Linked DNA regions of Homo sapiens: region 1 is linked to region 2. Evidence: fine-mapped expression QTL. Tissue or cell type: ileum. Region 2 holds a variant in brackets; the other region holds the start of a gene. All regions are shown on one strand. Distances are between the middles of the regions.

Region 1 (8,107 bases), 72 kb after region 2:
CACAAAAATAGAATCAGCTCATACGTAACTTTTTTGTGTAACTTCTCCTTTTCCTTCTTTCCTCTCCTCAACCTTAACATTAAAAGCTAAAGGCTCTTGTTCTGAGTCCCCTCTAATAAAAAATAAAATAAAATAAGCTAAAGGTTCATGAGAAAGCTGGGTGAATAAGAGAAGCATGCTCTCTGGATCTGTCCACAAACTCCTGCCTTATCTATCTATACAGGGCTTATTTATCTATACCATTCTGTCACCCTCCTGCCTCTACAGACAGACACTAATCATAGATGAAATGACATTCAAAGTTTCTTGCAGTTCTGAGCTATATGATTCCTTTAAGCCTCAGTTGCCTCATCTGTAAAGTGGGAGATGATCTCTCTCACAGGATTCTTAGGAGGATGAATACAGCAAAAGAATACTTTACAAATGTTTCTTGAAAAAGTATGTGACCTTCTCTATTCCCAAGGCAGTTTCTCAATACTGTATCCACCAAAAAAGGAAACACAGGTCATTCAAGAAATTATTACAGAATGCCTAAAATGTATAAGGCACGTGGGGGATATAGAGATTAAAACATCTAAAAATGCTTCCAATGTAGAATATCAGACAACTACAAAACTAGCACTACATTAGGGCTGGGCGCGGTGGCTCACGCCTGTAATCCCAGCACTTTGGGAGGCAGAGGCAGGTGGATCACGAAGTCAAAAGATCGAGACAATCCTGGCCAACGTGGTAAAACCCCGTCTCTACTAAAAATACAAAAATTGGCCAGGCGTGGTGGCAGGTGCCTGTAGTCCCAGCTACTTGGGAGGCTGAGGCAGGAGAATCATTTGAACCCAGTAGGCAGAGGTTGCAATGAGCCGAGATTGCACCACTGCACTCCAGCCTGGGTGACAGAGCGAGACTCCGTCTCAAAAACAAAACAAAACAAAACAAAAAAACACTAGCACCATATTGAAGAAAATATACAAGTTGTCATCAAACAACAACAAAATAAGCTATGGGAACTGAGAGGATAGAAAAACTACTTCTTTGTAGGAGGTGGAAAGGTTTCATGGAAGAGACGGCATTCGATTGTGCCTCATTGCCCAGGGAAGCATTACCAGTCAGAAACCTCCTCAGACAGGAAATCAAGACTGACTTTATCCATATGTACAGACATGCCACCTACAATCTTAGCATCCCATGATCCTAAATGCCTTTCAAATAACTCTTCTAAAAGATAAAAGCAGACTAAAACATTTTGCTTCCTTGTTACAAAATCATAACCCACGCAGAAAACTATTAGGATAATTTTCTCAATGAGAATCATATTTTTATAACCAGAGGGAATACACATTAAATTTTTAAACATCTATATTGTTTCCCAGACAATTCTAATCGCCATAACTTTCTAGTGAAACTGAAAATTTCTTGAGGGCAAAGCCCAGTGTTATTTCTCTGTGCCCCTCACCTTGCCACACACACTCATTGTATGAATACACAAAAACAAAAAAAGACTCATCTAAAAAGTGTTACATTAAAAAGTGTGAACATGTCACTCCCAGATCTTAAATCACTTATGTTTCCCAGCACACACCACGCATTTCCACAATGTGCCATGTGTTGATACTATTCTCCTTCTTGGAATGTCCTTGAATCTGGAATTCCATTCCCAGCTCCGAAAAATATTTCCTCCAAGGCCTAGCTCAAATGTGGCCTTTTTTTTTTTGAGGCACTACTCGACTTGTCCATGAAGAATTAATTCTTTCTTCCTCTCCAGGTACTCTGGACATATCCCTCCTATAGTATTCTCACTATAGAAAAATGATACTTATGTGTGTGTCTGTGTGTGTTTGTGTGTGTGTGTGTGTGTGAGAGAGAGAGAAACACCTACCAGAGTGTAAATGCCATGTGGGTAGTGTATGGGTCTTTTTCTGTATGCCCAGCACATAGGATGAATCTTACATAACAAGTGTTATATAGTAATGTGCCAAATAAACATTTGTTTAATTAAACCAAATAAACAGAAAACAAAGAGGGGAAAAAAGGCAGAAACACCACTATGCTCATTTACTTCTCCTGAAATATTGGAGTTCCTGAATTTAGAATAAATGGTAAAGTGTCAGAATTAGACCAAAGTCATCTGCACATGAACTAAAACATTTGAAACCAAGGAAAATAGAGAGATTAAGAACAGCCTCCTATGACGTCATTGTCTTGATAACAAGACTGCTTCAGTTTCAGTCATTAAGTTCAGCCCTTGAAGGCTTGAAGGTATATTCTCATCAACCACTAATTTGTTAATAAATTGAGATGCCCCTAAGCATTGTAGAAAGCAGACTATAAGAACTGGCCAAAGATGGCCCATATAGCATCCAGTCAAGACACAAAACCACTCTATAGGGATGAAAAATGTACATCTTGTAAATGTAATCCAAAAGATTCTAACATCCACATCCCATTCTGGAACCCAGAGGAAAATAGAATGTTTAAAAATGAAAAATGTTCAATGCTTGCCAGAGGAATCTAGATAAAATTTTGAGACAGACCAATGTATATATGCAAATGAGATGGCTGCCCTATTAAAAAATAGATAAACAGATGTAAGGATTTCTCCTTAGAAAGAGGGACAGACTGGCTTGGCGCGGTGGCTCACGTTTGTAATCCCAGCACGCTGGGAGGCCAAGGCAAGCGGATCACAAGGTCAGGAGATTGAGACCATCCGGGCCAACATGGTGAAACCCCATCTCTATTAAAAATACAAAAATTAGCTGGGTATGGTGGCGTGTGCCTGTAATCCCAGCTACTTGGGAGGCTGAGGCAGGAAGGAGAATCATTCGAACCCAGGAGGTGGAGATTGCAGTGAGCGGAGATCGCGCCACTGCACTCCAGCCTGGTGACAGAGCGAGACTCCGTCTAAAAAAAAAAAAAAGAAAAGAAAAAAGAAAGAGAGATTGATTATCAATTACCAGGCAAGTTAGAGAGGAATTAATATCAAGTATGGCCAATACACACTAAAACAGTAATCAGGAGTCTTCAACACACAAAAGATAAACAGTACTGCAGGACATGCTCTAAGGGTAACAGGAAAAAAAGTAAAGGCCAAAAATTATACAGGATGGAAAAACAATGAGAAGCCCAGGTATCAACCTCCTACACTCTACACCTGAGAGACTAAATCATGGTCCTGACCCCATCACCCTCACAGTCCAGTTGGGGAGAGACATCAGCAGAAAAACATCTTTAATAATTGTTATGTCAGAATAAACACATAACTACTGAGGCAGGATACGGAAATATTGAAGGGGAGAGAAAGAGGAGATCAGGTAAAACCTACTGTGGATGTTACCTCTCACCTAAGTCCTAAATATTGGTCAGGATTAACCCAAAGGAAAGAAAAATGGAATGGGAAAAGGATAGTGTCTGCTAAGTAAACAAGAAGGAGCACTAGTTTAGGAGTCAGAAGACCTGACCTTTAGACCCATAAGTTGTTTCGACAACACATCAATATGCAAAATACCGGGCAGACAGATTGAAGTAACAGTTATTTCTTTCTTTCTTTTTTTTTTTCGAGACGGAGTCTCGCCCTGTCGCCCAGGCTGGAGTGCAGTGGCAAGATCTCGGCTCACTGCAACCTCCGCCTCCCGGGTTCCAGCAATTCTCCTGCCTCAGCCTCCCGAGTAGCTGGGATTACAGGCGCCCGCCACCACGCCCGGCTAATTTTTGTATTTTTAGTAGAGACGGGGTTTCGCCATGTTGGCCAGGCTGGTCTCGAACTCCTGACCTCGTGATCCGCGCGCTTCGGCCTCCCAAAGTGCTGGGATTACAGGCATGTGAGCCACCGCGCCCGGCCAGTAAGTTATTTATATATCCCGGCACCTAACACATACAGGCGCTAAGCAAGACAGATAAATAATAGCAATAAAACAACTACAGTTTGCTTAGCCCTTCCTAAGTGCTAAAGTGCTAAGAATAGCAGGATAAACAATTCAAGCCCTTGTCCTCAAGCAGAGTGTACTCGAGGAGACTACAGATAAGTATACAACAACCCTGGTGAAGATACTGAGACCCAGGATCCTAATTTATTCCGTTAATAAGAGAGGAAATGGTGATTTAAACCATAATTTGATTGCCTTAAAATTATGAGATCCTCATTAAGAGAACAGGTTGGAGGGAGAAAGAAATAGGGGGTAAAGAAGTAACAATAACCCTCAAACCAAACTCCCTAATGGTCAATTAAATGGAGTCTTCCGGTGAGGCACGGAGAAGGAACTCCTCATACGGGAACAGCAGGTGCTCGATTTGGGGTGTGGTTATAACCTTTACTTCCCTTCCTACTAGTGCCTTGCTTTGCCTACTCCAACCCCGTCCAGGAACCGAGCAGCCCCCACCCGCCTCGGAGGAATCGATGGAGCACCTTTGAGTGCGCGAGTTGCCGCTCTCCGGGTACGGGGCCCGGAGCGTTAGCCTCCCGCGAGTATCGGTGAGCGGCTGCCGAACTGCCATGGGCGCCAGGCCGCTGGGGCGTGCCGCAGCCGCAAGAACCCGCAAGGGACCCCGCGCCCGCACCGGTCCCGGCCTCCTGGCTCCCTGCCGCTCCACACAGCAGCGAGAGCAGCAGCAGCAAGAGGACGAGACCCAGCTCAGGGCAACGTCCACACACCAGCCCTAGTGCGGGCGCAGCCATGTTGTCCCGCGGGCCATGTGACCCGGTTGGTCACGTGGCTGAGCCCTCCTTAAAGGGGCAGAATTTTGAGCTGACTTACGAAGTGACCAGGAGAGTTGCTCTTCACCTTTCTTCAGGTACTTCTTTGGCGCTGCTGCTTGCCTGTGCTAACGTCAAAACGCAGCAAAACACAAAACTCCACAAAACTCAAGGCCTTCCACAGACCGTGCACCCCTTTATGATTTCTTGGTTGAAAAATAACAGTCAAATTTGCTGGGCATTTGGTAAGTGCCAGAGTACTATGCTAAGCACTTCACTTTTTAAAATCTCATTTAATCCTCACAAAGACCCAGTAATGGCGCGCTTGTAGTCCCAGCTAGTCGGGAGGCCAAGGCAGGAGAATCGTTTGAACCTGGGAGGCGGAGGTTTCAGTGAGCCCAGATCCCGCCACTGCACTCCAGCCTCGGCGACAGAGCAAGACTCCGTCTCAAAAAAAAAAGAGAAATACAATACGGAATCAGAATCCGTGGGGACTGGACACAGCAATCCAGGGTTTCACAAGCTCTCCAGATGATTCTAATCCACACTTAAGTTTAAGAACCACTGTTCTACAGTTCCGTAATCGAACAAAATGCAAAACCAAAACAAAAAGAAGATGAAGGAGAAACTTACAGATTAAAAAACAACATAGCAGGCCGGGCGCGGTGGCTCAAGCCTGTAATCCCAGCACTTTGGGAGGCCGAGGCGGGTGGATCACGAGGTCAGGAGATCGAGACCATCCTGGCTAACACGGTGAAACCCCATCTCTACTAAAAAATACAAAAAATTAGCCCGGCGTGGTGGCACGCGCCTGTAGTCCCAGCTACTCGGGAGGCTGAGGCAGGAGAATGGCATGAATCCGGGAGGTGGAGCTTGCAGTGAGCCGAGATGGCGCCACCGCACTCCAGCCTGGGGACAGAGCAAGACTCCATCTGAAAAAAAAAAAAAAAAAAAAAACATAGCAGCCAGCTGCAATATGTGAACCTTATCTAAATACTAATTCAAACCTACTGAGTTCAAAATTTTTGAGATAATCAGGGAAATTTAACCACTAAGTCAAATTATAATATTTGATAAAATTAAGGAATTGCTGTAAATTTTGTTTTTAGGCTTTTAGGAGTAATAATGGTATTTGTGGCTATATTTTTTAAAAGAATCCCCTCACTGAGGTACACACACACTCACTGAGGTATACACACACACACACACACACACACACATATATATATATGGATAAAAATATAGGCAGTCAAAGATTTGCTTCCCAAAAAATGGGTAATCAGGGTCTGGCTAAAGATGAAGCATGATTGGCCATGAGTTGATAACTGTCATAGCTGGTTGATGGGCATCTGGGTGTTTATTGCACTATTCTAATGTAGCATCTGTTTGAATTTTTTTAGCATAAAGAAAAGACCAGCCAGGCACCGTGTCTCAAGCCTGTAATCCCAGCACTTTAGGAGGCCGAGGCAGGAGAATCGCTAGAGGCCAGGAGCTTGAGACCAGCCTGGGCAACACAGCAAGACCTTGTCTCTACAAAAAATTAAGAAAATTAACTGGCCATGGTGACGCACACCGGTGGTCCTGGCTACTTCGGAGGCTGAGGCAGGAGGATCACTTGAGCCTGGTAGGCAGAGGCTGCAGTGAGCCATGATTGTGCCACTGCACTCCAGCCTGGGTGACAAAGTGAGACCATCTCTCAAAAAAAAAAAAAAGGCCTTTTCTCCTTGTTGACTATTTTACAGTTTGCCAAGGCCTTTCACACATTTTCTCATTTGAGATTACAACCACTTGGCAAGAAATGTATTATTACTATACTCATTTCAAAATTGATGAAGCTAAAAGGTCAATGCCTTAACCAAGGTTGTATGTATTTACTGTGCATAATATATAGTCAAGGTCTAGGTCAACGGTAATCTTTGTTCGCCTCCTTCAAATATCAGTCTCAGCACATGCTGTGTCAGCTGCGCTTCAGAGACCTGAACTTCTTTGATTCCTGGTCCAGCTATACCATTAGGCTATAACCTCCATGAAGGTAAGGCAGGAGCCTATTCGTTTGCCACTGTATCAGCAAAATCAGGCCAAGCCTGCACATGATCACTCAGTGAACATTTATTAAATTATGGATAAGTGAATGAACAAATGAAGTAACGATTATCTCTTTCTCTTAAGGGGAATCAAATTGTGGAGAAAATAATATAGGTCTTAGACTCACAAAGAGCTGTGGTTAAAGCTGGCCACTTTACATGAAGTATGACCTAGGCAAATTATTTCAGCTTTCTGAGCCTCTATTTCTTCGTGTGTGAAATGGGAATAATAATTCCTTTTTCTTATAGATTTTATGGGGATTAAATAACACAAAGTATATAAAAGGTGTAGCCTGGTACCTGACATTTAACATATCTCAAAAATAACTTTGCTATTACTAATCATTATGAAAGATGGAACTTTGTTGGTTCTCCAGGACGATCATTCTTTTGTCTCAGGCTAACTTTTTAGTCAATAATCAATGAGTATGAGATCGATGAGAGATTTCTCATCAATATTTTCCACTCTAATATTTTGCTCCTGTCAGTGAGGAGGCTTGTTCTAAAAATTAAGAGGTAAAAAGTCCAACTCAGCCATCAGCTCGTACGAATTAGTGTAATTATATAAAATATCTCTCACCCTCCGTCTCACGTGTGAGCTCCTTCTGCATTTTGTAGCCTTTCTTGCTCCTTCTATCTCATGAAGCTGGGAGGATGAAAGACCCCAGTCCTGAAAGCAGCTTGTCTGCTCACTGAACATCAAAGAGTTCAGCATGGCTACAGTGGAGTGAGCAAGGGGGAGAGAAGAAAGGAAAGGAGATGAGAAAGGTAACATTGGGCCAAGTCATGGATGAAAGGAGAACAGAAAGGTAACATTGGGCCAAGTCATGGATGTTCTGGTAAGCTTTTACTGTGAAAGTTGGTGCCACTGCAGTTTTGAGAAGACATCTGACACTCTTCCTGCTGAGCAGCATCAATTTTCCCTCCAGGTTAGAGGCTTCTCTTGCTTTCTGGTTCCTGAACACAGGGAATGCAAAGTGCCCTGATGGTAGCCATGGCTTGTAGTTCAATGGGACCCTGGTTGTGTCCACAGAAAGACAGCATCCCTTTGTGGATCAGGACCTGCAGCTCTGCAGAGCTCAGAGTTGCAGGGATGGGAGAACAAAATCCCAGTAAGTCAGTAGGAGTAATAGTAAGTGGGGCTACTTCTACTTCCACCTCTTGGTGGAACCTATATATTCTTCCTACGTGGGAACAAGTCTGACATCTCTAATTGAGGGCGTATACTGCATCCTTATAGATGGCCCCATCTTTGCAGGAAATTGCATCCAAGCTGGCGTTTCAGCTGTGCTTTCAGTAAGCCATTTTCACCCTTTATGAGGCCAGCTGCTTTGGGTTC
Region 2 (8,107 bases):
TGGTCTTGAACTCCTGGGCTCACCATAATGTCATTTCTAGGACTCTGAGGTCTTCAGCCACTCTGCTTTAACTTTCCATGGTCTGCTTATAATTCTTTTATGTGCAGTGTCCAGAGTTTTAGTTGTATTTAGTAAGAGGAATAGAAAAATGTACATCTACTCCATCTCTCCATCTTTCTAGAACCAGGAGTCAAACCTCCTTCACCTTCATTTTTGAAGGATTGTTCTCCTGGATATAGAATTCTTAGTTGACAGGTTTGTTTGTTTTCCTTTCTACTCTTTGATTATGTCACACCATCATCCTCTGGTCTCCACTGTTTCTGATCAGAAATCAGCTATTAATCACATTATTGTTGCCCTGTATGTGATGAACTGTTTTCCTCTTGTTATTTTCAAGATTTTGTCTTTCAACAGTGTCAATATGATTTGTCCAGGTGTGGTTTTTTGTTTTTGTTTTTGTTTTTGTTTTTGCAGTTTATCCTAATTGAGGTTCACTGAGCTTCTTGGATTTATAGATAATCTTCATCAAATTTGGGAAATTTTCAGATTTTTCTTTCAAATTTTTGTCCCTTTTGCTCCTCTCCATTTGAGATTCCCTTTACACATGTGTTAAAATTATGTTGGAACACATGATGTTGTTGCACAGGGCTGTCTTGATTTTTCTCTGAAATTTTTTCTGCTTTTTAAATTTTTATGTATTTATTTTGAGACAGGGTCTCACTCTGTCACCCAGGCTGGAGTGTATTGCCATGATCTGGCTCACTGCAGCCTTGACTTCGTGGGCCCAGGAGATCTTTCCACCTAAGCTTCCTGAGTAGCTGGGATTACAGGTGCATACCATGATACCTGACTAATTTTTGTAATTTTTGTGGATATAGGGTTTTGCCATGTTGCCCAGGCTGGTCTCGAACTCCTGGGCTCCAGTGATCTACCTGCCACAGCCTCCAAAAGTATTGGGATTACAGGCATGGGCCACCATGCCCAGCCCTCTCTGCTCATTGGTTTGGATAATTCCTTTTTCTTTTCTTTTCTTTTCTTTTTTTTTTTTTTGAGATAGAGTCTTGCTCTGTCACACAGGCTGGAGTGCATTGGTGCAATCTTGGTTCACCACAGCCTCAACCTCCCTAGGTTCAGGTGATCCTGCCACCTCAGCGTCCCAAGTAGTTAGGACTACAGATGTGCACCACCATACCTGGCTAATTTTTTATTTCTTGTAGAGACATGGTTTCTCCATGTTACCAGGGTTGGTCTCAAACTCCCAGGCTCAAGCGATCCACTCGCCTCAGCCTCCCAAAGTGCTAGGATTATAGGTGTGAGCCACTGCACCTGTCCTGGATACTTTCTCTTGATCTACCTTCAGGATCACTGAATCTTTCTTCTACCATTTCTTATCTGCTCTTGTGTTCAACTAGGGAATTTTTCATTTCAGTTAGTAGTATACTTTTCAATTCTAGAAATTCTACTTGGTTCTTTTTTTAAAATTTCTATTTGATTCTCTATTTGTTGACTCACAGTTGGCGTATTTTATAGCAACTATTCAAATATACTTTAGTTCTTTAAATATAATCATAATAGCTATTTTTAAGTCTTTGTTAAATCTAGCATCTGGGCCTACTTGGGAGTTAGTTTTAACTTAAATACTCATCTTCTTTAGTATGGGTCACACTTTCTTGTTAGTCTGCATGTTTATTACATTTTAGCTGAAAACTAGACATTTAAGATTATACATAATATGCATAATTTAAGATTACATATATAATCTTAAATAATCTTAAATGTTTATATGTTCAGATATATATGTGTGTGTGTGTGTGTGTGTGTATATATATATATATATATATATATCTACCTATATATATAAAGAGAGAAAGAGAGCGAGAGAGAGAGCACATGTATATGTAACAGCAACTCTTGATTACCCTATTTTCCTGAAGGTTTTTGTTCTGTTTTGTTTTGTTTTGTTTTGGTAACTTACCTGAATATAAACTGTAGAATCTCATTCCCCATGGTCTGTACCCACTGATGTCTCTGTTCAGATTTTTTTTTTCAATTCCATTGAGGTCATATTTGTGTTGCATACTTGAACAGCTGACCAATAATTTAGACAGAGGCTATCTCAGATACTTTGAACCCACTGGGCTTTCACCTTTCATGAACCAAGGTGTATGGATTGAGAAATGGCATTCAAAGTGGCAGTCATCTCAAGTCTCCCTGGCTTTCACTTTTTGCTGGGCTCTCTTGGGTCTTCCCTGCTTATGTTTAGTTTCCCAGAAAGCCTAGAAAAGCTTATTTCACACCTTTAATGTCTCTGTTACTTGCGCGATCTCCCTGTTAAATTTCTGGCTGGTCTACCACCCATCACAACTGCTACCGTGGGCTAGTCATGCTGCAGGATTTCCCAAAATATTCTAACGTGAGTCTGCTTTTTTAGCTGACAAAGCCACAGGCTTTCAGTGCCCCCATCCTCCACCCTGAATCAAGTCAATCTTTGGCTGTAAGGCTTTGGTTTTCGCCACCAGTCCTGAACTGACAGTTACATTTTTATTTTAGTTTTAGAGACAGGGTCTCCCTGTGTCACCCAGGCCACAATGCAGTGGTGCAATCATAGCTCACCATAGCCTCGACCTCCTGGGGTCAAGTGATCCTCCCATCTCAGCCTCCTGAATAGCTGGGACTACAGGCATATGCCACCACACTCGCCTAATATTTTATTTTTTTATAGAGACAACATCTCACTATATTGACCAGGCTGGTCTTGAAATCCTGGCCTCAAGAGATCATCCCACCTCAGTCTCCCAAAGCACTGGTATTACAGAAGTGAGCCACCATGACTGGCCTTTTATTTATTTATTTATTTATTATTATTATTATTTTTAATAATAGAGTGTGGCAGAAAGAGGATATGGAATCAGTTCCAAGCAAGAACGCCACATATTCTCACCCATTCTTGGCCAAAGCTATAGAAGTTTCTCAAGAATCAACACTTCTCAATTTATCACCTCCCTTTGGTGGATTTTCAGTTTCCAGTGGTTGGGTGTGTGTTTTTTCTTTACAATTTTGTTCAGTTTTGTACTTGTTTTCTGTATTAGTGAATCACTTGACCTCTTACATTGCAATTACCAAAATAAGAACTCAACCAAATGTAATTAGGATCACAACAAGAATGGAATTTCTTAGGATCCTGATTCTCAACAAGCCAATTACAGAAAAATGTTCATGAGATAATTAAGGACATGTAAATGCTGACTGAGTATTTGATAATATTAAGGAATTATTTTTAGGTTTTTTTTGAGATTTGATAATACCATTATAGTTTTGTTTTTATTATTATTTTTTTAAAAGAGTGTTTAGCTTTTACAGTCACATACTGAAGTGCTTTTTTTGTGTGTTTTGAGACAGGGTCTTACTCTGTTACCCAGGGTAGAGTGCAGTGGCGTGATCATGACTCACTGCAGCCTCAATTTCCTGGACTCAAGCAATCCTACCACCTCAGCTTCCTGAGTAGCTGGGACCACAGACACATGCACCATTTTAAATTTTTGGGTAAAGACGGTGTTTCACTATGTTGCCCAGGCTGGTCTCAAAGTCCTGGGCTCAAGTGATCTGCCCATCTCGCTCTCCCAAAGTGTTGGGATTATAGGCATGAGCCACAGCACCCAGCCACATACTGAAGTTTTCTAGGGAAAAAAGTACATAGTATTTGGGGTTGGTTTTAAAGTAATTCAAAGGTGTTAGATTAAACTAGATTGGATAACTGTTAATGTCCCAGCTTTGTAATGTGTCACCTTGGCTAGACTGAACCTCATTTCCCAGAATTCTCTTCCCTTTATGTTTCTCGTTAGGATGTGCTACAGAAGACATTTACTAAGCAACCTAGAAGACAGAAGAGTAGCAATAGCCATAGTGTTTTTATTCTCAGAAGACTGATACAAGGGATCCAGGCAAGGCTGCAGCTGTTTCTCACTGACCCTATATCCTCCTTTAGTTTCTCTGGGTCCTGGGCAGGTCTGTATTTAGCTCTGTGATGAAGAGCACTAGCTTCTCCTGTATGAAATCCACATCATCAAAGTATTTTTATCATCAGAGACACAGCCTCTGCACATCTTCCTCCTAAAAGAAGCCTCTTTCAATCACCTCAACCATCTTTCGAGAAAGGAACTCTTTGTTTTCAAATATTCTAGAATTTAAAATGACTGACGTCTCTGTTAATTACCATACCATCCATTTGTTGAGAGTATACTAATCCTTATCATCGTATTTCATCCTCATAATCACCCTGTAAAGCAGGAAGTATCATTCTTTTCATTTTAAGGATGAAAATACTGAAGCTCAGAGAGATGAAATAAATGGCATCCCCAAGATCACACAGGTAGCAAGCGAGAGAACCAGGAGTCAAAGTCCATCACACTGTGGCACCTGCAGGCTTATCTCACCCCCGTGCCTAACCAGATAGAGTATCTTCTAGGTTCAGCAGCATCTCTACCCAAAGTACATATTTGTGAAAAATACAGTCAAAATACCAATAATTTGTATTTTTTTTTACCTAATGTCCAACGTGAAAAAATATTTTAAGAGTGAGCAGATGAAACCATTACTTCAAATAAAGCTTTTTGAATTATGTTTAATTTTATTTATCTCTGGGGACAAGGACCAATGAAGAAGGGACTGCAATTAGCATTAGCCTCTCCTGCATGAGAGGAAAAGGTGACGCCCAAAGAAAGGTCAAAGAAAGAAAACTAGAGATCAAATTGGAAAGAAGAGCGCAGTAAAACACACGAATCAAATTAACAACCTCCACTGTATTTTCTCTGTAAAACCAGCATGCCATTGTGGTGATTACCATTTTAGTGAAATGAATGAAAACAGTCATTTCCTCCA[T/C]GCTACTTGTTTCACCCACACCAGATTAGAAACGAAGAGAATTTTTGAAATTGTATTACACTTGCTTATACCACGGTGGCTCCTGATTTTCCAATAATATAAGTCACTTTCAGACCCCAAAGTCTATGGTAACCGTTCTTGCTCCTGGAGTAATACATGAAATCAGGTATTTAAAATACCAGTCTACTTGTAAAATAAATAGCACATAAATAAACAATAGCAGCTAATATTTACCAAGCACATTACAGTTGGATATTGTTTTCTATATTTTTAGTCTTCCAAACAAATTTTTGATACAGATTCTCTTATTGGTATGGCAGACATATAATTGACCATCCAAATAAGGATACTTTAGAGATTGAAAGGTGGAACTATTAACACTTGTGCTAGGCACAGATATAAACCAGGAATGTTTGGACACCCACTCATTGGCCTTATTTTACAGCTAAAGAACTAAGGAACAGAAAAGTTGAATAGTGTGCCCAAGGTCACGCAGCTAGAAAGCAGAGGAGCTGGGCTGAAGGCCAGGATGTCTGGCTTCAGCATCATAGTCGGCCATTCTGCCATGTGCCCCTTCTGAACTAACTCATAGACTGTAACATTTTTCGAATAAATCATTCGACTATTCTAGTTTCAGACACACAAACCTCTCTATAGTTCACGAGTTCCACAAGGCCATAAAAGCACACAATAAAAAGTCTTACAAGAGATTGCAAATAGAAAGTGTCTGCAAAATAACCTGCAGAGACTCCACAGGATGAGCCCAGGCAGGAGGCATCACCACGGGACCTACCGCACAGGCCAGGTAGTTGGGAGAACCAGTATCTAGTCTGGGCTCTATCCTTTCCCTTCTGGCCTGAGTTCCCTCACTTGTGCTCCTCTAGAGACCTTATAGGGTCCTTCCCCACCAACCATTTGATGTGAGCTGGTGGACACATGTCCAAATCCTTTTATCTTGGAGCTTCTCCATCCCAAATTGTTTCACTTCCTTCAAGGAACTTCCCATGGTTTCTTGCTGAGGTGTGAGATAAGCAACTACAATCTTCTTTGAGGTGCCTCATTCGAGGGCCTCAAGTTTTACAGCCTCTCTCCCCACTGAGAGACAGGAAGGAGAGAGAGTAGAAAAAAGAGTGAGGCCCCAGGAGAATGATTAATTCTCTGACCTATATAACAGTAGATACATATGCTCTGTTTAAGAAGCATGAATTATTATAGCTGTGAAACACAAGGCTATAAAGCATCTATGTGCTGAAAACCAGTCAACCTAAACACAGAAGAAGCAACTATTAAGAGAAAACACATATCACATTAGATTTCTGCAACAAAGAAGAAACTTTCTCATCATCTACTGGTAGTGGTAGACTGCCAGATGGAATGCAGTAGACTGCTAGATGGAATTAGCCTCCTAATAATGCAGGTGGTTCTTTAACTTCAGAAAGTGTAACACACTAATATGCAACACAAAGGAACATGCCTGCTCTATCCAATTTCAGATGGATTAGATCTAAATTATAGAGAAATCCGTTTGTTTTATCCTAAGCAATGCATGTTATACAGCAGCATCATCCTAAATGCAAAGGCAACTTCTAGGTCAACTAAAACCAAACCACCACCAACACAGGGTACAGACTACATTCACTGAAAGATTTGCTCCAGAATCAATCACTTATATTGCTTAGAATAACTGTATAAAACTGTCAGTCCTGAGTGCAGGGCCGCATATGGTTCTAAGTATTACTTGAAGTGAGAAAAGTAGACACGGTTTAGTCTCACTAGGGATCTATCACATTCTTTTATTCTCACAATCTTCTGTGTTCTTCAGTGACAATTCATTAGCAAGTTATGAGAGAATAAAGCAATTAGCTTATACCAAATGGCATTTTCACTTAACCATTATTTTCAGAGAACCACTTGAAGACTTCCATGATTTTATTTGGACGTTTTGAAAGTGGATAAGTGCTAAGTGCCCAATTCTGTATGTTCTGCTGCTTGATTAGATGCCATGTTTACTTCCTTTACTGAGTATAAAGTGGAGACTGTCCATGGAAAGAAGTGTTATTTATAATTGCATGCTACCAGATGGCCTATCTCCTTTCCACATCCCTAAAAAGGTCCAAAAAAATGTCTTCCATGGATTAGATTTCAGAGTAAGGTATAATTTCATAGCTTGCTAGCTTATTTCATTTGAATTTTCATTACACGTAAAACATAATACTCATAATTAACATATATCAAATGTTTACTACATGACAGCCTCTACCCTAGACATTTTCTCTGTAGCATCTCCTTGAAACCTCCAATAATCCCATAAAGGGTATTACTATTTCCTCACTTACAGATGAGGAAGCTGGGTGAAAGGTTAACTAACTTGCTCCAGGTTATTCAGCTAGTAGGTGGCTGAGCTATGACTTAAATCCAGGTCCCACTCCAAAACTGCATGCTTTTAACCATCATGCTATACTTCCTCCTTAATTTTATACTTTTATAGCAATAAATGTATATGTATGTAAACCCACCGAGGTGGGTTTGCTTGCTCTTTTAACATCTGCAAGCTCCTTAAGAAAAGAGGATTGTGTCTGTTAGATTCCCAGAACCCAGCATACAAATCTGGCATTCAGTAGCTTGCCAGTAAATTTTGCTGAATGGACAGAAGTATACCCTTACATAAAACTTCTACGTGTGGATATGCATATTCCTATATTAAAAAGGCATCCACACATCCACATGAAAAAAATCACAGCATAATTTGGTAACAAAAAAAGATAACTTAACTATATATTTTCTCTTCTTAATAACCTGGTTTTATTTCCAGATCCTTAGAGAAAGAACAAATGAGTCATACTATGACATGGGGAAGTCACTAAAAGTAAGCTATAGGAATGGGAAATGGCACTATATTACTTTACAGCTCATTAACAAGTCAGACGTCAGATACAAAAACTAGCTTGCCAAATCAATAATTTTTAAAAATAATTTAATGGAAATAAGAGGTTAGGAAGGTAAGAAGGACAAGAAACTGATTTAAAATCTCAAGAGATCAAAAACCATAGGAAAAATTCACTGCCTCCCACTTGCTTTTGGAAGAAGCCACTGTATGACATAGCGATTCCCATCTCTTAAATTATCTTTATATTTATAACAAGTCTTGAGATGCCTGATTTAACATATGTGGCTTGTGACAAAATACTACTACAAGGAAATAAGTAGCTTTTCATGTTTTGTATTTGAA

What was found. PIP is the estimated chance that this variant, and not a neighbour inherited with it, causes the effect.
Region 1: SUMF1 starts here. The variant in region 2 is fine-mapped to the expression of SUMF1 in ileum (GTEx, PIP 0.96).

Annotation. Positions count from the first base shown.
Region 1 is chr3:4,462,580-4,470,686 of GRCh38, forward strand. SUMF1 (sulfatase modifying factor 1) reads right to left here and starts at 4,690. Exons shown (of 9, transcript NM_182760.4): 1 at 4,397-4,690. The coding sequence starts at 4,666. It overlaps LOC124909340 (a long non-coding RNA gene), which reads left to right and starts at 4,245. Exons shown (of 2, transcript XR_007095789.1): 1 at 4,245-4,929; 2 at 6,085-6,820. RefSeq lists a silencer at 4,387-4,566 and an enhancer at 4,737-4,916.
Region 2 is chr3:4,390,796-4,398,902 of GRCh38, forward strand. The region is part of intron 7 of SUMF1 (sulfatase modifying factor 1); the gene reads right to left. Among named protein-coding and RNA genes, the nearest start is that of SUMF1, 72 kb to the right of the region's middle. RefSeq lists an enhancer at 3,290-3,584. The variant T/C (reference allele first, on the strand shown) is at 4,879.